Regions from separate parts of the Homo sapiens genome. Here region 2 is reported to be linked to region 1. The links are microRNA targets in miRTarBase. Many come from high-throughput screens and were not tested one by one. Region 1 holds a microRNA gene; the other region holds the end of a gene's coding sequence.
The links. Region 1 holds the annotated microRNA hsa-miR-3664-5p (AACUCUGUCUUCACUCAUGAGU, at 1,585-1,606, opposite strand). A microRNA usually pairs through its seed, bases 2 to 8, with sites in the 3' UTR of a target mRNA and lowers its output. Matches are read on the target gene's strand: a 7mer-m8 pairs with bases 2 to 8, a 7mer-A1 pairs with bases 2 to 7 and ends in A, and an 8mer does both.

Region 1 (3,411 bases):
AGTGCATGGCTGTGGCCACATTTCATTCATTCATTCATTCATTTATTTATTTGAGATGGAGTCTTGCTGTGTCGCCCAGGCTGGAGTGCAGTGGCACGATCTCGGCTCACTGCAGCCTCCGCCCACACAGATTCAAGTGATTCTCCTGCCTCAGCCACCCAAGTAGCTGGGACTACAGGCACCCGCCACCACGCCCGGCTAATCTTTGTATTTTTAGTAGAGACGGGGTTTCACCATGTTGGCCAGGCTGGTCTCGAACTCCTGACTTCAGGTGATCCATCCGCCTCAGCCTCCCAAAGTGCTGGGATTATAAGCATGAGCCACTGCACCCGGTCCCATTTCCTCTTTTTATAAGAATATCAGTCCTACTGGATTAGGGCCCAATCTAATGACCTCATTTTCAGCTGATGACTTCTGTAAAGACCCTACCTCTAAACAAGGTCACACTCTGAGATCCTCAGGGTGATACTTCAACATATGCATTTGCAGGGACACACTTCAAAGGGGAGTCAGGGGTCTGGGCTCGCCTGGTGGCAGGCTCTGCAGGAGATGAGTCTGAGGGTCCAAGAGGAGGTCCAGGGAGCGCTCTGCAAGCCACCAGCCCCGAAGATCACTGGCACCATAGGAGCAGGGCAGGATGGGCGGGGGTGGGGAGCAGAGAGCAGAGCAAGGGCAACCACAGAACCTGGGGCCACACCACCTTCTGAGATGAGCCACATAGCCTGGCACTGAGCCTCCTTCACGTGCTGAGGCCACATCTGTGTGCCATGGAGCCTGTGAGCCCCTGGAGGGAGAGGCTGTGCCTGGGACCCTGCGGATTCCCCAACACATTTGCTGAACAAGCAGGGCAGGGAGAGAAAGGAAAGTGAGGTCGAGACAAATATTATAAATATGACCATATCCCTGATGGAGAAGAAAGTCAAGAAAGAGTTCATGTTGAAAGGCAACACGGGCCAGACACACCTGGTACTCAGGGGCCCTGCAGGGTTTTACAGCAAACTGTGGCCACATGGGGGCTGGGAGGGGACAGCCAGGAAAGAGGCACAGTCCCCATCTGAATTTGACTGAGAGACTCTTTGAAGCCGTCTGAGATTTCCATATACGATTTCTATTAATATTTAAGGCAAGACGCATCCCATCCTCCATAACAACACCGTCTTGAAAGAAGCCTTTGAACTACTTGAAAGGTAAACCCAGCATTATTCTTGGATTAAGAACTCTTGTTCATTCAACAAATACAGCCCCACGACGACATCCCTGAACACCAGAGCCAGAGGTGCCTTGGCATGTGCACGCTGCCTGCTTCTGCAGCAGTAGGATGATGCGTGTGTGGCCTGTTACGTCACACCGCCAGTGGGTCTGGGCAGTGTCCCATTGCCAATTGCGGGAGGAGTCCTTCAGGGCACGGATGAATAATCATGCTAAGTAGGATAAATAAAAACTATAAATAGCCTCAAATCAGTTCAGGTCAAGTACTACTGCCAACGAGCTACGGAGAAGGCATTCGCTTTTCAGATCTTTTTGCAGATCCACATTGAAGGTAGGGAACTCTGTCTTTACTCCTGAGAGCTCGTGTTGGAAGGTACTCATGAGTGAAGACAGAGTTCCCTACCTTCAAGTTTACAGAGGAGACGGGGTGCACAGTGGAAAGGAGGGGAAAAAAACCCCACACGCATGAAGAGGAAAGACAAGTAGGATGCAGGCTTGGAGGTGGAGGCTCGGCGGGACGGGGAGAAAAAAGGACAAGACCCTTCCCTAGAAGCGCTTGGTGGACACAGTGGGTGCAAACGACCAAGTGGCTGGATGGAGGGAAGAGAGACCCTCAGATGGAGGGAATAGGGGGCCCCCATACAGAGGGGCCCCCCACAGACCAGAGTCAGGGGCACACAGGTCCGTGAGCTACGTGGAATGAGAGATGGGTCCCTGGACCACATTACTTCCGGCTCCCTGGTGTATCTCCTCCACGTTCTGGCCACCTGCGGGTCCCTGTTTTCCTCCACACTGACCACTTGAAAACTGATGGGTGGCAATTTTCACCCCTCATTGTCCTAAGGGTCGTGGGGGCTGCTTTGCTTGGTGCTGGAGTCTGGGGCCACAGTGGAACATGGCATTGATTGCTAAGAGGAAGGGACCCCACGATGCCCTGTAGAGCCCAGCTCCTCGGGGCAGGAGGAGCACATATCCACTGTCTGCCCTCTCCCCACACTCATGACCTCCACCTCCCCCAGCCCCAAACATTACAAAAGCTAAAGACATCCTGGGCACCTGTGAGAAAGGAAGAGCGGAGGTAGTTCCCACGTCCATCCTGGTGCCTCTGCCTCCCGGGTGGCGACCCTCAGGAAGGTGAAACCTGCAGCTTGGGCCCTGCAGTTTATAGAATGATATGTTTGTGGTTCCCTAAAACAAAGAGCCGTTGCCACAGCAACCGTGGCATCCCAGCACTCAGAGGCTATTCTCAGACACTAAACAATGAGTTTTGCCTTTCAAATGCATTTGATACAATTTGCTTGGAAGGCATTAACATCCTCTGACAAAACCCATGAGGAAGAGGAGGGCAGGTGAGAGCTGACAAGGTCGAGACTTGCAGGGCTTCCAGGAATCACACCCATTCATGAGACAGGAGGGCCCAACGGCCCCAGACACTTTCAATAGGCAAACAGGAAATGGGAAACAGCAGAGGGGAGGCAGGCAGGATCCCTAACCTTCCAACAGCAGTTCCGTGGAGGAGGAGGGGCTGCCCAGAGGTGAGGCAGTTGGGATCCCTAACCTTCTAGCAGTGGTCCCATGAAGGAGGAGCGGCTGCCACACACCCTTTCGGGGCTTCTTCAGGAGAGACGTTCCACAGTCCCATCTGGGGCAGTTCTCTTCTTCAGGGTCACTGCAAAGATGGCAGCACAGGCCAGAGCCCGCAGCAACCACTTAATCCACCCTGCTCACTCTGCAAAGGACATTGAGTGCGTCCCCTGCTCACAGCCAGCCATTGCTTCCTCCATTTACCATTTTTTTTTTTTTTGCCAGTTCATGAACAACTTTGCTATTGTTTACAACGATCTCATGGGATTAGAATACCAAACAGTGATGCCAGTGAGAAGACCAAATAACCTTCATTCCTAGCACCAGCCTCCTGTCACTAGCACGCTGGGCAAGCTGCCCTCAAAAACAGCTCCCGGGCGTCAGTGACAGGAACACGTGTCATCAGGAAAAAGGCATGATGTAGGCAGGCTGGGGGCAGCATCCCAATGCAAAGTACATTTTTGAACAGACTAAAGAACATGTGAACAGTACACAGAAATTCCTCCATCTAGCCATCTATCCATCTACCTATAGATCCATCCATTCATCCATCCATCCATCTTATCTATCAATCCATCTATCTAATCTATCCTATCTATCCATATCCATCTATCCATA
Region 2 (3,411 bases), not on the chromosome of region 1:
TCCTCATCAGTAAAATGGAAATAATTGTACCTATTGGGTTGTTACCAGGATTAAGTGTGAATTTAAGTAAAAGCATCCTATTTTTTTTTTTTAAATAGATGGTTAGACTTATAAACCAGTCAAAAAAGGTGTATTTCATTACTGCCTGAAGTTTGGTATGATATGTAGTATATTTTTCATTATTTCTGAACATTTACTACATTGCTTTAGGGGAAAATGCTGTAGTTCCAAACAGTCACTTTTCAAACTACTTAAAAATACAACCTGATTGTAATTGGGAACTGACAATATTATAGAATACTTTAGCATGTGAGTTTTTATTAAGTAACTGCATGCCTTGAGGGCAATATAGCTAGAAACAATGGAGAAGACCAGACTGAATCAGATTCAGGGATATCCTTAAATACAATATGAGATTTTCTTATTATTTGCTTCTAAGGTAAAGGCAAAATAATGAGGAGAAGAAAGTTCTTAAAAATTCTGTTTTTGCTCAGATGAAGAACCAACTCCAGCCGATGGAAGAATCATATATCGAAAACCAGTCAAGCATCCCTCAGATGAAAAATATTCAGGTTTAACAGCAAGCTCAAAAAAGAAGAAGCCAAATGAAGATGAAGTAAATCAGGACTCGGTCAAAAAGAACTCACAAAAACAAATTAAAAATAGTAGCCTCCTTTCTTTTGACAACGAAGATGAAAATGAGTAAGTGTAAATATTTTGAATTTAGTCTACTTTGAAAGTATATGGAGTGTTCATTAAAATCACATTTTTTCCTATTATAAAGATACTACAAGTTCTTTATAGAAAGTTTAGGAAATAGAGAAAAAAATTTAATAAACTACATCTATTCATCAATACCCCTCTGACTTAAAATGCCAACTCTATAGAAATTAGCTAGTATTAACATTTTGTTATTTCCCTTGTGTGGTTGTATATATATGTAAATTATATTTTTAAGCAAAATACATTTTTTGTGTGTAAACAAAATTTTATAAATACAACTGTATTGCAAATGTTCTTTGTCCTGCTTCTCACTTGACATTGCATTACGAGTATTCTTCCAGGTCAGTAAATTTCAAAAACCTGACATTAATAGCTACAGATAATTTCATAAACATCTCATTGTATCTTTTTCATTAGCAATAGCTCCACTTTGGGTGGGGGAGATGATAATGTGCCTTGTTAAAAATACCTCCCCAACTCCTGCTAAGGGTGGCCATGAGACTCAGCTCTGGCAAGTTAAGAAATACAGGTGGAATTCTGCTTGATAAAGCTGCTGGGTTTTTTGTTACAAAAGGACAGACTTGGCAAACATGAGCCTTTGCTCTTATCTTTTCATCCTACTTGGAGTGCAGAGATAAAACCTGAGTACCAGAGCCACTTTTAGGCATAAGGAAGGCAGCCATGTGCTTTGGGTCATGTTAGTAAAAAGACTCAGAGCTTGGCTCCTTGCTGACATGCCTGGAGGAGCTGCTACACCAGCTTGGATTGCTGACCTCTGACTTCTTGGTAGTGAGAAGAATAAACACTGTGCTTAATTAGGCCTTGGTCAGGTTTCTTTTATATGCAGCCAAATGCAGTCCTAAGTAATACAATAAATAACTGGTCAAACTGTTACTGGTGGAGGGTGTCCAGGTTCTTGGCATTTTGGACAAATAATTGAACAAAACGCACAAAGCAATGAATATCCTCTAGAGGTTTGCCATTGGTTACTTGGCGTACACCCTGTGTAAATGAAGTAGTGGCCCGTGACCTGTCTGATTGGTGCAGAAAGTGACCAATCAGAGGCTGAAGTGAAGTTACAAAGTTATACTCCTGTGTAAATGAGGACTTGGCCTATGACCAGTCTGATTGGTTGCAGGAGGGGACCAATCAGAGGCACTTTCATTTTTCATCTGCAATGCAGAAAAGGCAAGGGGATTGCAAAGGGAGTAGCCTCTGATCCTTTTGTTACTTAGGTATGGAGAGGTGGGGTTTTCCTTTTGATTCAGTTCTAGGAAGTCAATGTGAATCAGCCTTAGGTTCCCTGTCTCCAGACCCTATTCTCCTGCCTCATTTTCCCCCTGAGAGACGTGATCCTCGTAAATCTTTATGGGAGGCTGAGAGACTGAGGGTCTTTCTTCTGTAACTGCTTCATGCTAACTTGGGACACAGTCCCTACCTATTGGAGATCACGTAACTCTCACCCTGCTTTGTCTAGGGGAGACAGGGTAGCTTCTTGATGGCCGGTGGTGTCTTCTCCTGAAACTGGCTAGAAATCTTGTCACATGATCATCTAACTTGGTGGTCTCTAGGCAAAAGGAAATGGATTTGGTTAAAAGATTTAACAGATATGGTCCAAAAACCAAGGCAAATATAATCATTAATAATGGGCTGGCCAAGGGAGGGAGCCATGAAACCCAACTTAGTGCCCTTTAGGTGCCCCAGCTGTTGTCATATTTTAGAGGCCCAGTCAGCTAGTTTTCAGGTGGTGTCCCTTACTAATCCTGATTGGTTGACATCAAAACAGCATTCTTCTTCTAGGAAAATACATAAGCCACCTGTTTCAGCAGTTAGGAGATCTAGTCCCCTTCGATTTTGCAAAGCGACCACTGCCAAGGAGCCTATCCGAATTTGTAAGGTGACAATACTTTGAGCAATGTTATCCAGGCTTTCCATAAAATCCTTGGACAAGCGTTGGTAATAGGATAGGGAAGTTGCAATCCCGCTAACTCCCATTCCTACCTCTGCTGTTATTCCTAGCCGTTGTGTCTGGTGGTTGCAGTTAAAGGTATAATGAGGGATTGGTTGTTGGGAGCTATATTAATTTAGGGACATACAATATTTCTGTCTCCAGTCTACCACTTCCACCAAAGACAAATCACAGCAGAACCGACCTAACTTCAAAATAAACTGCAGTCCCATATACTGGGCCTGATTACCCACACAAAGTGCAACAAGAATCATTGTCCATATAGACTCTCCTAGATTGGCTTTGCTAGAACATTTCACAAGGCCATTTCAGTCAAAGTCCTGAGAAAGTAACCGGTTTCAATTGTGCCCTATTACAAAAGAAAACGTGGTTATTAACTTTATACAGACAAATGCCATGAATTAAGAATATTCATAAATAGTTTACAAATTCTGGAGAAATTAGAATACTCAATACACTTAAAGTGTATTTCAAGGCTATAAATAGCTCAAAATAAAAAGATTATTCAGACTCTGAAAAAACAAAAAGAAGTAGCAATATTTCAAACAACAAAAGCCATACAAATTATTTCAGTCTTCCATTAGTTCATTTCAGTCCATGTAATCAACTCCTGCTCTACTTCATATTCATCTTTATGAACACATCAGCCTTTCAATTAGTGCCTTGGAAGTTTTCTGTCTAATCCAATGGCACACTCTCCAAAGTTACCAGAAACCTGC

Region 2: the mRNA of KIAA1143 is a reported target of hsa-miR-3664-5p. The part of its 3' UTR that is shown has no 7-base or 8-base seed match.

The regions. Positions count from the first base shown.
Region 1 is chr11:70,870,743-70,874,153 of GRCh38, forward strand. It overlaps MIR3664 (microRNA 3664), which reads right to left and starts at 1,626; the gene lies at 1,528-1,626. The region is part of intron 11 of SHANK2 (SH3 and multiple ankyrin repeat domains 2); the gene reads right to left.
Region 2 is chr3:44,750,636-44,754,046 of GRCh38, reverse strand. KIAA1143 reads left to right here. Exons shown (of 3, transcript NM_020696.4): 3 at 495-3,411. The coding sequence ends at 706. Among named protein-coding and RNA genes, the nearest start is that of KIAA1143, 9.3 kb to the left of the region's middle.